Regions from separate parts of the Homo sapiens genome. Here region 1 is linked to region 2. The links come from fine-mapping of genetic effects on gene expression. Tissue or cell type: fibroblasts. Region 2 holds a variant in brackets; the other region holds the start of a gene. All regions are shown on one strand. Distances are between the middles of the regions.

The links. PIP is the estimated chance that this variant, and not a neighbour inherited with it, causes the effect.
Region 1: it holds the start of MMS22L, and the variant in region 2 is fine-mapped to the expression of MMS22L in fibroblasts (GTEx, PIP above 0.99).

Annotation. Positions count from the first base shown.
Region 1 is chr6:97,279,990-97,288,095 of GRCh38, reverse strand. It overlaps MMS22L (MMS22 like, DNA repair protein), which reads left to right and starts at 4,880. Exons shown (of 25, transcript NM_001350599.2): 1 at 4,880-5,000; 2 at 5,543-5,782; 3 at 6,734-6,859. The coding sequence starts at 5,619. RefSeq lists enhancers at 4,604-4,663, 5,044-5,303.
Region 2 is chr6:97,005,273-97,013,381 of GRCh38, reverse strand. The region is part of intron 3 of KLHL32 (kelch like family member 32); the gene reads right to left. Among named protein-coding and RNA genes, the nearest start is that of KLHL32, 85 kb to the right of the region's middle. The variant C/T (reference allele first, on the strand shown) is at 3,700.

The DNA of each region.
Region 1 (8,106 bases), 270 kb before region 2:
AGTCTTAAACTTTAAATAAGATTTCAATTAAAATCATAAACTTTCTGAAACTGAGACCTTTCAATCAGTGGAATATATCATATTAAGTTGAATTTGTGAAAAGTTTCCCTCCTACAAAACATGACATTCATATTAAATTGTTTGACTTTGAGTCTGATACCTGAAAACACAAGAATACATTATTAAATAGATGGTTTGTGGGTATATTTTTTAAAAAGCAGCAAGTTAGAATGGGTTCATTTATTATACAACATTCAAATTCTATCATATGTCCTCCCTGTTTTTTGTTGTTGTTGTTGTTGGTTTTCTATTTATTTATTTATTTTTGAGATGGAGTCTCGCTCTGTCACCCAGTCTGGAGTGCAGTGGCACGATAATGGCTCACTGCAACCTCTGCCTCCCGGGTTCAAGCAATTCTTCTGCCTCAGCCTCCCGAGTAGCTGGGACTACAGGTGTGTGCCTCCACAACTGGCTAATTTTTGTATTTTTAGAAGAGACAGGGTTTCACCATGTTGGCCAGACTGGTCTTGAACTCCTGACCTCAAGTGATTCACCTGCCTTGGCCTCCCAAAGTGCTGGAATTACAGGAATGAGCCACCGTACCTGGCCTGTCCTGCCCTCTTTTACCAAGTAGCTGAATGGTGCTGGAGAAAATGACAAAACCATGATGACTGAACTCTAATTTTTTGTCACAAATCTCAAATGATAACTCAACACTTCCAGACATTCTTATTATCTTTGCCTAGTAAATATACTTTTCTACTCACCAATATGACAATATTGCACCTCTTCTCTAATTTCTAACAACTACTCTTCCTTCTCACTTCCAGTTGATGTGTCATAGAGAAATAGGTGAAATAAAACAAAAACAACTCAACATTCCAACACGTAGTTCACCACCTCCAGCCATCTTATTCTGTATTTTTAAGATTTACTTTTTTTTTTTACTCTTCCTATTAGGATAAAAATTTTTTCTTGAGCCTATCAGAGGTTGATATGTCATTTGTGTAATGAATACTATCCCCTCTCATCTTTTCAATGCCTTTATTCTTGCAATTATTCCCCTTCTGTTCAGCATCTTTTTTCTTTCCATTTAATAACTGCCATAGCCTCGCAAACATGTTCTAACATCTTTTATCTTGAAAATACCATTTCTTGATCCCTATATGTCCCTCTGTCCTATTTTTATGCTTTATTTTCAATTAAATTCCTGGGTAAAGTTTTGATATTTGCTGATTCACCTCCCATTTTCTATATGACCCACTCCTATCAGATGTTTTTCCCCAACTACTCAACTTAAACAGCTTTTATCAACATTAGTAATGACCTATTTCTTGCCAATACCAATGATTAATCTGTTTTCCTTTATTAGCTTACCCATTCTTTCATAAAATACTTCTCTTGGATTTCATGACAGACATCATACCATACCACACACACTTGATTTTTCTTCTGTGGACTAGCCTTATTTCTTGCTTTTCTTTGCTGGCATTTTCTTGATTACTAGCAAGCTGAATATCTAAAAGTTTTTAAGAGTTTTAGCTTTTACATGTAGGTCTATGATCCTTACTGGGTTAAATTTTATAATATGAGGTAGGTTCATTTTTAAGTGTATCAGTATCCAATAGTTCTCTCACTATTTGTTGAAAAGACTATCCTTTCACCATGGAATTACCTTTGCCAAAAAGCAGCTGATCAAACGTGTATGGGGGCCTGTTACTGGAGTCTCTATTCTTTTCCACTGGCTATGTCTACCCTTAGATCAAAATCATACTGTTTTGATTATTGTAACTTAATGGCAAGTCCTGAAATTAGGTACTGGAATTCTTTCAACACTATTCTTACTCAAAATTGTTTCGGTTAATCTAGGCCCTTTGCATTTCCATATCAGTTTTGGAATGCATTTGTCAATTTCTACAAAAGAAAGTTCTCTGGGATTAGGATTTTGATTGGCAGTCCTTTGAAGCCATAGATAAACTTCAGAAGAACTTTTAATAATATTGAGTCTTCCAATTTATGATTATGCTATCTCATTCTATTTACTTGAATATTCTTGAATTTTTTTCAGCAATATTTTGGAATCCTTGGCAAACAAAATCTGACGCATATTTTGTTAAATTTAAACCTTGTTTATGTCATTAAATGGTGTTGTTTTCTAAACTCTAATTTTCAAATTGTCTTTTCATGTCTATAAAATACAATTAATTTTTGTGTGTCACTGAACCCCGCCACCTTGCTGAACTCATAGTTTTTATATATATTTGTAGAGATTTTTTTAGGATTTTCTATATGAATAATTATGTCATCTGAAAATCAAGACAGTTTTACTTCTTCTTATTCAATCTATATGACATTTATTTCTTCATCTTCCTTATTGCATTGACTAGTTACCTCCAGTAAAATGTTGAGAGAAGTGGAAAAAGTGGACATCATTGCCTTTTTCTCAATCTTAGGAAAAGAACATACATTTTTATAACTAAGTATGATATTAATAGCAGGTTTGTCATAGATATCACATATAAGGTAGGGAGTTTTCTTCCATTCTTAGTTGGCAGAGAGTTTTTATCATGAATAGATGTTGAATTTATCAAGTGATCTTTCAGTGTCTATTGAGATGACAGTTTTTCTTTTTATAGACTTGATATAATGAACTGATTACTTGTAGAAATTTGAATAACCTTGCATTCCTAACATGAATCTAATTTTCTTGTCATATGTCATCCTTTTTGTTTGTTTGTTCTGAGGCGGAGTCTTGTTCTGGAGTACAGTGGCGCGATCTCGGCTCACTGCAACCTCCCCATGCCGGGTTCAAGCGATTCTCCTGCCTCAGCCTCCTGTGTAGCTGGGACTACAGGCACATGGCGCCATACCCGGCTAATTTTTGTATTTTTAGTAGAGACGAGGTTTCACCATGTTGGCCAGGCTGGTCTTGAACTCCTGACCTCAAGTGATCCACCCGCCTTGGTCTCCCAAAGTGCTGGGATTACAGGCGTGAGCCACTGCACCTTGCCATCATATGTCATCCTTTTTATGTACTGCTGGATTTTGCTTGCTAACATTTCTGCTTTTATGTTTGCATGTGATATTGTATTGTAATTGTCTTTTGTCAGGTTTCGATACCAGTGTGGTGCTAGCCTCATAAAACAAGCATCCAATCTCCTAATTTCTCTAAGAGTTAGTATAGAATTGGTATTACTCCTTCCTTAAATGTTTGGGAGAATTTAATAGTAAGGCCATTTGGCCTGGAGAGTGTTTGTTTGTTTTGTTGCTTTTGAGAAATGGTGTTGCTCTGTTGTCCAGGCTGGAGTACAATGGCACACTCACAGTTCACTGCAGCCTCGAACTCTCCAGCTCAAGTGATCCTCTCACCTCAGCCTCCCTAAGTAGTTGGGACTACAGATGAGCACCACCACGCCTGGCTAATATTTGTATTTTTTTTGTGGAGACAAGGGACAGGGTTTCACCATGTTGCCCAGGCTGGTCTGGAACTCCTGGTCTCAAGGGATCCACCTACTTCAGCCTCCCAAAGCCACTGTGCCTGCCCTGGCCTGAAGTTTTCTTGTAAGAAGTGGTGTGTGTGTGTGTGTGTGTGTGTGTGTGTGTGTGTGTGTGCAGAGAGAGAGGAGGGAGGCTTAACCAAAGATTCTGAGTACTACGATAAATACAGAGATACTCAAATTTTCTTCTTTTGTTGATTTTTGACAGTTTGCGTCTTTTAAGGAATTTGTCCATTTCACCTATGCTTATTGGCATAAAAATGTTCATAATGTTCTTTTAATATCCTTGTCCTTTTAATGACTAAATTTCATAGTGATGAAACCTTTTTAATTCCTGATACTGATAATTTGTTTATTTTCTTTATCAGTTTGGGTAGGGGGGTTATCAATTATATTGCTCTTTTAGAAAAACAACTTTTGCATGTATTTCCTTCCATTTATTTCATCCCATTTATTTCTACTATTTATCATTTCATTCATTTTGCTTGCTTTGGTTTCAATATGCTGGGGGTTTTTTCTAGTTACTTAAGACAAAAGTTTATTGAATTGAGTTCTTCTTTTTAATGTAAGCAGGTACTGTTACAAATTTTAGTGTTTTCATTTTAATTTAATTCAACGTATTTTCTAATTTTCCTGTGATTTTTCCTGATTCACAGGTTAGTTAGAAGTATGATTCTTAATTTCCAAATATTTAGAGTATTTCAAGTATCTACTTTATTTCTAGTTTAATGCCATTATGATCAGACTATACACTTTGTACGATTTAAATCTTTTTAAAGTTGATGACATTTGTTTTATGGCTCGGAATATGGTATCGCTTAGTGAATGTTTCATGTGCACTTGACAGGAGTGTGTATTCTGCTATTGTTGGGTTGGTCACCTATAAACGTCAATTAGGTCAAGTTGGTTAGTGCTTTCCAAGTTTTCCATATCCATACTAATTTTCTGTCTACTTGTTCCATCTGTTACAGAGAAAATTAATTGTTGCACTTGCCTGCCTCACAGTCCATGGACAAAAGGCATCTGCATTCTAACAAGAGTTGCTGGCCCCAGAGCGGGAAGAGGGGACGGCGCGACTGTGGGTGTGAACGAGGCACTCACTTCGCACTCACTGGAGTAAATATCTTCTCTTTGGTCCGGCCAGAGGATAAACCCATAGTCCTTAAGTCCTCTCCTCCGCCTCAGCAGCAGTTCTGTTTTTTTTTTTTTACCAGGCCCCGCCTTTCAGCCGAACGCACCAATTAAAGGTACAAAAAAAAAAGTTTCTCAGTACCTCGTCCCGGACTGACGGACTCTCGCGAGAATTCGTGGGGCTCCGACTGTTTCCGCGCAGATATCGCGAGGCGATTGGTAGCCGGGGGAGGGCTGCGCCGTGGCCCCGCCTTTCCGGAGCGCGGGCGCGCGGTGGCGGGAATTTCGCCTGTTTGCGGTTTAGACCCCAAAGATTCCTGTTGGTGGTCTGGGTCACAGGAGGCAGGTTTCGGGAGCTGGAAATGTGAGCGGGTACGACAGGCACCGCGGGTAACCGACGCCCCGGGTCCTTGCTGCAGCCGGGTACGCGGGATACCGGCACCCCGCCTTCTCCGCCCGAGTGCTGCCAGGCGTGGGCCTGGTGGGTCTCGCCTCCTCCTTGGAGGGTCGGGGTTGGCCCTAGGGGTTGCTTTCCTAATTTCCACCCCGAGCCGGGGAGGGAGCGTTCTCCACCCTGCTGCTGGGAAACGGGCGGAGAGTGGTTTAGAAACGTTGCGGAGGGCGCAGTTCTAGGCAAGCCCGGGACGCTATGTCCTGCAGACATTTCTTTGCTTTTCACCTTGTCCTGGGCTGCAGAGCCCGACTTAGTGGCCGGATTTCGAGGTCCCTGCCACAGCCAGTTGGTTGTGCATTTTGTCTTAAGTTCTGACAGCCTTGATGGACGGAGGGCGAGGGGGAATTGGGAATTTGGCCTCTGGGTTTGTTCGTTTGTTTTTCCTTCCTGCTGGCGGACGTCTTGAGAACTTTCTGAAGTAATCCCCACTCTCTCGGCCCCACCCCCCCCCCCCCAACAGGAATCTCTTCACACCTTCTCTTTGGAGCCCTTAATGATACGACGAACCCCAAGTGTTTCAGAACATGAAGTAAACAATGGAGAACTGTTCTGCTGCATCGACGTTCCTGACTGACAGCTTAGAGCTGGAGCTGGGGACGGAATGGTGCAAACCTCCTTACTTTTCTTGTGCTGTTGACAACAGAGGAGGAGGAAAACATTTTTCTGGAGAATCCTACCTCTGCAGCGGAGCCCTTAAGCGGTAGGTAAAACTCAGAGACATTTTCCCTCATCTGATTATTCACCAGTTTTTTAGGAATGTTAGTTATTTCAGCCCATTAAACTTTGGTGTTCACCAAGTCGTGTTTTATAAATCAGCTTAGTATATCATAAGGGTACAAATGATTATCAGTTCTGCTGGCTTCTTGGTAAGGGCATATCTAAAGTATTTGGGGTATTAGGGAAAACTTCCTTGGTAACTGATGTTCCCTTACTGTAGGGAGCTGGGCACTAATTTTTCTTCTACTTAAAATGAATTCCTAACTATCTGAGCCTTTTGCAGTAGTATTTCCTTCTAAAGAGTGTGATAATATTCTAGAGCTTTCCAGTAATATTTAAGAGAGACAAACATTTTTTATTGCCCCTGTTCCTTCTAATCCTACCTGCACATATAGAAGTGTATAGACTTATTTTGCCTTGGGCAGGTACATATATATTACAGTAAAACTGTTCTTGAAATATTTTGGTAATACCTGCTGAGGCAGTTTCAGTGAGGAAACTATTTTTGTTGACCTTATAGTTGTACCTTGTTAGAAATCTTAAATAGAATACTCAACTTCATTAGTTGGATACTATTCTCCAGACATGGCTCAGAATAACTGTTAGCAGTTTTAAAATTAAATGTCCCCTCAAAGGATGAAATTCTACAACTGAAGACTACTGGTGAAGACAGGCAGAAATATGTTTTTTAGAATTCTTGTTGATTTTTCCTCTTAAGTTACATTACACTTTAGTCGTACATTTTATCAATATAGAAGATTGACGTTTTAATACAGTCTAGCTATTGTAATCTTGAATGTGTAAAGTACCAAGGCATTTTCTGACTTTTTATACATGTCATGTATAATATGGATTCAAATAATGTAAAGAAAAGAGCCGTCGTATTATGGTACTTAGTATACTTTTTATGAGATTGAAACAATTTTCATTTCAGATTGATTTTGAATCTTGACCCTTTACCAACTAATTTTGAAGAAGATACCTTGGAAATATTTGGCATTCAGTGGGTTACTGAAACAGCATTAGTGAATTCATCTAGAGAACTCTTTCATTTATTCAGGTATTTCTTCGTTATAACTTTCTGTGAGTGTAGGTGTTGTTCACTTTTGTAAATTACGTTGTTGGGTGGCTTCTAATACTGATATTACAAAAGACCAGAGGAATTGTGCTGGTTGCTCACTTGATTATCTTACCAGTAACAATAATCAAGCAGCAATGCCTGATGAGTAATGGTTTTAATGAGTTGCGTTTTCAGAATCTTTATTCTTTGCATTTGACACATGTATTGACAAATATTTAAGGCTTTGAACTATAATTTTTAGAAGAAAATTAAAATATTTTTGTTGTGCAATAGCCATAGTCTTTCAGTGATCTTTAGAGTATGGTCTTAACAAATAAATTGTTTAGACTGTGTAATAGAAATATTAATTATTTGGACAACATTTAAAATTTTTTTAATGAAAAATTTTAAGCATACACAAAATAATAATATAATGAACATCCATATACCCTCCTTCAGTTGCAGTAAACAACAACTTTTTATTACATTTCCTTCATCTGTCTTGTCTCCTCTTCTTTTGGCCTAAGTATTTGTAAGGAAATCCTAGGCATCATGTCGTTTCACCCATAAATACTTCAGTATGAATTTCTTAAAAATATGTGCTTTTTAAAAACGATGAGGACGGCCAGGCGCGGTGGCTCATGCTTGTAATCCCAGCACTTTGGGAGGCCGAGGCGGGAGTTCGAGACCAGCCTGACCAACATGGTGAAGCCCCTTCTGTACTAAAAATACAAAAATTAGCCAGGCGTGATGGCATGCGTCTGTAATCCCAGCTACTCAGGAGGCTGAGGCAGGAGAACTGCTTGAACCCAGGAGGCGGAGGTTGCAGTGATTTGAGATTGCCCACTGTACTCCAGCCTGGGTGACAGAGCGAGACTCTGTCTCAAAAAAAAAACTCATCTCAATTAATAAAAATTAAAGTTCTTCATTATCATTTAAGACACAGTTCATATTCAGATTTTAGGTAATTTTAAACAGGAGTCAGTTATTGAAAGCTAATTATTCCAAAACACAGTAAAAATCTATATGTGATACATTTAAAGGAAAATGGAGAGGTGGAAGGAATTCTCTCACCATCATCCCATGAAACCTTTTGAAGAGACTTAAACTGTATCTACGCCATGTCATACGTTTTATTGATAGAACAGGCTCAGTGAGTGATCCTCTGTAATCCTGAAGATTACAGAATGAGCGAGTCTTTATCTAGGACATAGGTTATAAATATGGGTTAATTTTTAAAGACTTTG
Region 2 (8,109 bases):
CATTTTACAACAACGAAACCAAGGCACAAAAACTGAAGTGAGTTTCCTCATATAATGTGGCAACTTAACAATAGAGAGGACATTCTAATAAAAAGTTATTTAACACTAGCTCAGTGCACTTTTCTGATACCAAACTGCTGAAATACACTGGATATTAAAATCTGCATCTTCTATGATGTGCAACTTTACACATATTTTTCTCATAAAGTACAAGGAATGTTATTTCTCACAAGAAAATGTACAATTATTTTAAGAGCATTTACTATATTTCACTTATGTAAAGGCTAGGAGGGGTAAGTATCCTTTTCTCACAAAATTACATGTCATGACATTTCTGCCATTTAAGATTACAAAACTCACTGACCAAACACCATTTAGAGGCACAGAGATCTCTATTATTAACAAGAAAAAGATGAAATTTTGAAAAAGGGCTCTTTTGGACTTAGAGTGCTGAGGAAGGTGCAGTGAAAAATAACCACAACCAAAACAATAACAATAATAATAAAGTTTTCTACATCAAACATGTCAAATCCTTCTGACTCTCTTTTGATATTCTGCTTTGAAATAAAGGAACCCAATTACTTCTTATATGAGAACCCTCATATATAGTTTAATTGCTCTTCAAATCTGAAACCTATGACTGAATTACGTTTCTCAACATTTTCAGGTGGCACTATGAGACCAGGATTACAGAAATGATAGTAAGCAAAGCCACATCTGAAAATTCACAAAAATTATGAAAAATTCACTGCAGCTAGCAACTGTTAAGATGCCTGTATTAGTTTCCTTGCTACTGTGATAGTACCACAAACTTCGTGGTTTAAAACAACACAAATCTATTTTATAGTTCTGGAAGTCAAAAGCCCAAAATGCGTCTCACTGGGCTAAAATCAAGGTGTCAGCAGGGCTGTATTCCTTCTGGAGGCTTTAGGAAGAACTTGTTTCCTTGTCTTTTCCAGCTTACAGAAGTCACTTGTTTCATGGTCTCCTCCTTCAAAGCCAACAATCACATCACTCCAACCTCTGCTTCTGTCCTGACTCCTCTGACTGTGACTCTGCTGACTCTTTCTTCTATCTTTAGGACTTTGTGGTTACATTGGGTCCAGCTACATAATCCAGGATAGTATTGCCACCTCAAGGTCCATCACTTCATTATTACAGGCTCCAGAAATTAGGGCATGGACATCTTTGGCCAGGGGGTCTATTATTTTGCCTACCATAATGCTCAATAGCTAATGGCAGACATGAACAGGGAGTACTCAGTTCCACACAGCTTGGTATAATGGAAAATGGAGGGGGTTTGGAGGCATGTTTGCCTAGGCTAGGGTTTAGACTCTAGCATTCAGCAGTTACGTGATTGATTACAAATTAATTCAATGTTTAGCAAACTTTAATTCATCATCTGTAAAGTTGTTGTAATATCTACATTTAAGGATTATTGGGGGGATTAAACAAAGTAACAAATGTGAATACAACTAGGACTGAGGTTAGCAAACAAATAAAGAAAGATTTTTAATAAACGCCAGTTTACCTTCCTTTCCATGTTTAGGTTTTGCAGCTTGAATAACAATCATTATTTCCTTAGTAAGAAGTGTATTCATTTTCTGGCCTATCCTTGCATCATTAATATCCTTTTCTACTCAGAAGTTTTAAATACTTTTATGTCAGCATGTCCATAAGCAGGAGATAAGTTTGTAATGACTCGGATGCTTAATTTTAATTCAAGATAAATGATCACTCTGAATATGTATCTATTTTTCACACTACAGTGAATTGGGGTTTTAGATGAGTTTATAGAGTTTCTAAAGGTTGTGACAAGAAATTCAACAATTTTATAATTTAATAGTTTTCTTTGCTCTTTTAAAGAGACTTTTCTCATTCATTATGCAAAAAGGCACAAATTTCCTTTTATTATAGCTTTGAGATTCACTCCCACCACACACATACTTGTGATTAGTAATTAATAATTGTCATCACTATTAGAAAACTTGTCTCATTCCAACCATTAGGGCATAATTCACTGGCTTCTCTAGGTGATTTATCACAAAGCTTCTTAAAAGTGACTTTTGCCTAAAATATGAAGATATGGTTCCTATTATTTTCAGCAACCACCTCTTGCAGGATTCAAAGAAGAACATGTCTCCCATTCTTAATAAACAGCAGTTTTGTTAAATGACCTCAAGTGCTAACCTAGTAGAATTTAACGTGAACTTGGCTAGACAAGAGATAAATGACCTAGCAATGATATGATGGCATACATGATAATTCCCTCATGTCCAAACGCTGTCCCTCCTCCCACTACCACTCATGATAAAATAATGGTCCACTGGGAAGCTCTCATTTACCATCTAGAAATAGAACCTTCTTCTGAGCAGGCTGTTAGGTATAGCAGGTGTACGTGTTAAAGATCAGAAAATGCTTCCACACATCCACTGGTATTTGCTTTCCTCTGCTGGACAATCTCCAGTAAAGAATAGTAAACTTGGTACTTCAAATTTCTAATATGCTGTCCAAAATACTCAGTGAAACTAATGATTGTTTTACTACTTAGGAAAAAAAGAAAGCCTAATAAGATACATAAAGGAATGTGCCTTTTATTCTTCTAGGTACTTTTTTATATTCAAAAGTTCTTGATTTCCCAAAAGCCACTATTTCCTTCCCTAGGTAGCAAGATTTGAGGTCATTTGAGGATATTTGTTTTTCAACATTAGGACCAAAATACAACACACAGCAGAATATTAGCAAGTATTTTTTTAGGAAAACACTTTTGTGGTTCCTCACTCATACACACACAAAATTGAGGAAACATGAGGGATAAATTCTTCAATATCTAAAATAACAAGATGATATATAATCAGAAATAGTTAAGGGGAACAATGCACTATATAGGATTCAATTTATAAACTTTTGTAATAATTTAAATGATGCTGATAAATGTTTTAAAAAATATTTGCTACACTTATTATCTGCAAAGTCCAGGGCTGGGTATTCAGCTATGATCTGGGGGAGAGGGAGAGACAGACATATGAACAAGTCCTGACTCTTCTAATACAGCAACCCTGCTCCACCAGCCCTACCAGAGCCAAGCACCACTGCTGCTGCAACTGCTGTCTTACCTCTATACCCATTCTGCTGATCCATTGCTTCTATCACTTTCCACTGATTGATAATCTGCAGTGAACCAGGAGCATGGCATAGAGTGTCCTATAAATATTTTTCTGTATGCTCACTTTTTTTTTTTTTTTTTTTTTTTTTGTCAAATCAGTGCCTGATCCTTTTCCTTACCCTAAGTCTAGGGAAAAACCCAGTAGCTTGTTTGGGCCATTTCAGTTTGTTTATTCTGCCTTCCTCTGTGTGAGGCTAAACAGAAGTCTTCATAGTTCTCCAGGCTGCAGGCTGGAGACATAGAAGCCTCTGTGTGGGGCCCTCTCACTGACAATGCCCCTCAGTCCCCAGAGCTGGTATCAAAGCTTTTTCAAGGGGAATGCAAATTACCTCCCTTCTTGACCTTAATTATAGTGTCTCAAAAACATATAATCTCCACATACATTTTTTAAGACACTAGAATTAAGATTAAGAAGACCCTCACGTGCTTTTTAAACTGCTCTTAAATATGAAACAGTCTGATGCTTTAGTAGGTATGAGCATGAAATACAGGCAGTCTTTCCTTCTACTGTCCAGCAAGATCACATTTCACTT[C/T]CATCAAATAGGGAATTCAAAGTAGTAAACAAATTATGTTCAAAACAGTAAACTAGCGTATGTAACAACAACAACAAAGCATGTACAAATCCTCCCTTTCACAATATACAAAGCAAAGGAACATCTCGCATGCATTTTTCCAGTCCATACACAACTTTCCAAACATTTCAAAGTACATTTATACAAGTGCTCTATTGCAAATTAAAACAGAAGCAACAGCATGGCCAGTAAATCCTAAAGTGTCGATAGTGAAGAGAGTTTTAGGTGCCCAGAGAGCCAATGTGTTTAAAAGATTAAACATTTACATTTGAAAAGCAAAGCCTTGCGAAAAATTATTTCAAAATAAAAGAAACATTTAAATTTAAAATATAGATGAAATTGGTAAAAATTGTCTCTGCTGAATAGCCTTAAAAATACTGTTTCTTAACAGAATTTTGGTTTATAAACCAAAATTCCACTCTATTGTGCTTGAAAACTAGATACCATCACCAATACTAGTAAACCATCAGTTTAACATCTAGTATGTTTCAGACCCTTGGTTTGCAACTGACATTTATCTTATTTAATTTCTACATTAGCCCCATTAAGTGACAACTCACCTGCTTTTACAATTGGAGAAGAATATAAAACTTAATGATATAAAGCCACTTGCCCAAGGATATACACAGCCAGAAAGTATGTGAACAGAGATGTTATAAATTAGACTGGTCTCAGTCTAAAACTATACTGCCCTTCTAATTAATTATCCTATAAAAATGCGGCTGGGGAGCCAAGACGGCCGGCTAAGCACAGCCAGGAGGAACATCTCCCATCAAGAGACAGGGACATAGGGAAGAATGAAATACTCTCTGAGCAGATCTTTGGAGAGAAGGCAATGAGTGGATGGAAGGAAGACATAGAGGCCAGGCTGGAGGGAAAGGATGCTAGGAACCCTGCACAGGGCTGCTGAGCAAAGGGACTCATTCCTGGGCTCCAGCGTCTCCTGGGGAAGGAGTGAGATGAACAGCCAAGGTATGGCCTGCTCTCACCTTGGATCTCCAGAATCCTATCAGCAGGAGACCCCATGACCTCCACAAACACTTACCCTGGCAGGGAGAGCTGCCAGGAGAGGTGGCAGGAGCAGGACTCCAGCCAGTGCACAGCTCAGAGAGTTTGGCATGGGAGTGGCTGCAATGGAGCACAGCCAGGGACACCTACGCTCCTCTAGGAGACATTAGCCTAGGGGTGACTGTCATACCTGGACACAGCAGGGTGGTCTTCCTTGTGAGATGGGGCTAGTCTGATCTGAGCACTACCCTGTCTTCTGGCCTCTCCTAGGGCTCCAGACTGGTTGCACCCACTTGCAGTGCAGCCTCAGATGCCCAAACAGGGTGCTTCCTGGAAAACTTTACCATAGCTCCTTTGCTGGCAGACTGCACCTGACTGTCAGAGAGTTCCAGTGCACTGGAACCGGCTGAAACACACAGGGCTGCCACGGTCTTCCCCCACCACAACCTCCCTCTGCTGGTGCTAGCACACCCTGACACCCAACCCCATGCCACCACCACTGGCACAAATGCCAGACAACCTGTTACCACAGTGCCCTGACCCTGTCATGTCACCACCACCACAACCACCTGCATGAGGAGGTGCAGCAGGAATGCCACTGCCCTGCTTCCACTGGTCCCACATCCCAGGCAATTCACATACACACTGAGCATTGCTGCAATCGCTGGCATGTGCAAGCGAGCACAAATTCCACTGCCAACACCTTGATGAAGTAATTTAGTGGGCAGCCCTCATCGGGGTGTTGTGGACAGCAGACTGGGAACACTTTGGCCCCTCCAGTGCAGCAGGTTCCTAACCTTTAGGGGCCAGAGAACAAAGCTAGGGCCCCACTGCCAGCCCCCCAGAGTTAGAGCACATAGTCCAGGAGTGCTGAGCTGAGCCTTGGCCTCATAAAATCTTCCACAAATGAGGCCAGTTGACTGTACCTACCTTATAGCACAATCAAACTCCCAAGGGTATCAAAGATGAAAAAGCAAAAAACCTCATCCAAAGGACAGCAACCTGAAGACTGAAGAAACATCAGCCCATACACATGAGAAAGAACCAGTGCAAGAACTGTGGCAACTCAGAAAACCAGAGGGTCTTCCTACCTTCAACCAGCCACGCTAGTTTGTCAGCAATGGTTCTTAACCAGGCTGAAATGGCTCAAATGACACATAGAATTCAAAATATGGATAGGAACAAAGATCATCCATATTCAAGAGAAAATCAAAACCCAATCCAAGAGATATAAGAAGTACAATAAAATGAAACAGGAGCGAAAAGATGAAATGGCCACTTTAAGAAATGATCTGGTAAAGCTGAAAAGCTCACTTTAAGGATTACATAATACAATCCTAAGTACTAACGGCAGAAATGATGAAGCCAAAGAAAGAGTCTCAGAACTCGAAGACTACCTCTCCAAAATATTTCAGTCAGACAAAAATAAATAAAAATGAGTAAAAAAGAATGAGCAAAACCTCCAAGAAATATGGGATAATGTAAAGAGACCAAATCTACAATTCATTAGCATCCCTAAAAGAGAGAGAGAAAAAAACAAGCAACTTAGAAAACATATTTAAAGATATCTTTCATGAAAATTTCCCCAACCTTGCTAAAGAGGCCAACACTAAAATTTGGGAAATGTGGAGAACCCCTGTGAGACACTATATGAGATGACCATCCCCAAGACACATAGTCCTCAGATTCCATAAGGTAGATATGAAAGAAAAACTCTTAAAAGCATCTAGAGAGAAGGGGTTGGTCACCTAAAAAGAGATCACCATCAAGCTAACAGTGGACCTTTCACCAGAAACCCTATAAGCAGAAGAGTTTGGGGGCCTATATTCAGCATTCTTAAAGAAAAAAAATCCAACAAAGAATGTCATACCTAACCAAACTAAGTTTCATAAGCAAAGGAGAAATAAGATCCTTTTCAGACAAGCAAATGGTACAGGAATTCATTACCACAAGATCTGCCTTACAAGAAGTCCTTAAAAGAGTGCTAACCATGGAAACAAAGACCATTACTGGTCACCACAAAAACACATTTAAGTATATAGAGCAACTACACAATCAAGTCTGCATAGTAACCAGCTAACAACACGATGACAGGATCAAACCCACACATATCAATATTAACCTTAAATGTAAACAGTATAAATGCCCAAATAAAAGGCACAGAATGTCAACTTGGATAAAGAAGCAAGACCCAACTGTATGCTCGCTTCAAGAGGCCCATCTCACATGCAATAACCCCGATAGGCTCAAAGTAAAGAAATGGAGAAAAATCTGCCAAGCAAACAGAAAACAGAAAAGAGCAGAGCTTTCTATTCTAGTATCAGGCAAAAAAGACTATAAATCAACAACAACAATTTAAAAAGACAAAGAAGAGCATTACCTAATGGTGAAGGACTCACTCAATGAAAAGACCTAACTATCCTAAATATGTATGCACCTAATAGAAGGGCACCCAGCTTCATAAAGCAAGTTCTTACAGACCTATGAAGAGACCTAGATAACTGAACAATAATAATGAGAGGCTTAAACACTCCACTGATAGTATTAGATCATTGAGGGAAAAAACTAACAAAGATATTCAGGACCTATACTCAGCACTTGACCAAATGGAACTAACAGACATCTACTGAACTTGATGCCCCAAAACAAGAGCATATACATTCTTCTCTTCTGTACATACTATACATTCTTCTCTTCTGCACATACCACATACTCTAAAATCAAGCACACATTTAGCCAGAAAACAATCCTCAGAAAATTAAAAAAAATAAAAAACTGAAAATATACCAACCACATTCTCAGAGCACAGTCTGATAGAAAAGACATTAATACTAAGAAAATCTCTCAAAACCACACAATTATATGGAAATTAAACAATCTGTTACAGAATGACTTGGGTAAACAGTGAAATTAAGGCATAAATCAAGAAATTATTTGAAACTAATGAGAATCAATTCACCACATGCCAGAATCTCTGGGACACAGCTAAAGCAGACTGAAGAAGAATGTTTATAGTAATAAATGCCCACATCAAAAAGTTAGAAATATCTCAAATTAACAACCTAATATCACACCTAGAAGAAATAGGAAAAGAACAGCAACCAACTCCCAAAGCTAGCAGAAGACAAGAAATAACCAAAATCAGAGCTGAATCGAATGAAATTGAGATGTGAAAAACCATACAAAAGTTCAACAAATTCAGAAGTTTGCTTTTTGAAAGAATAAATAAGAGAGATAGACCACTACCTAGATTAATAAAGAAAAAAAGAGAGAAGATCTAAAAAAACACAAACAGAAATGACAAAGGAGACATTACCACTGACCCCACAGATATGCAAAATACCCTCAGAGACTATTATGAAC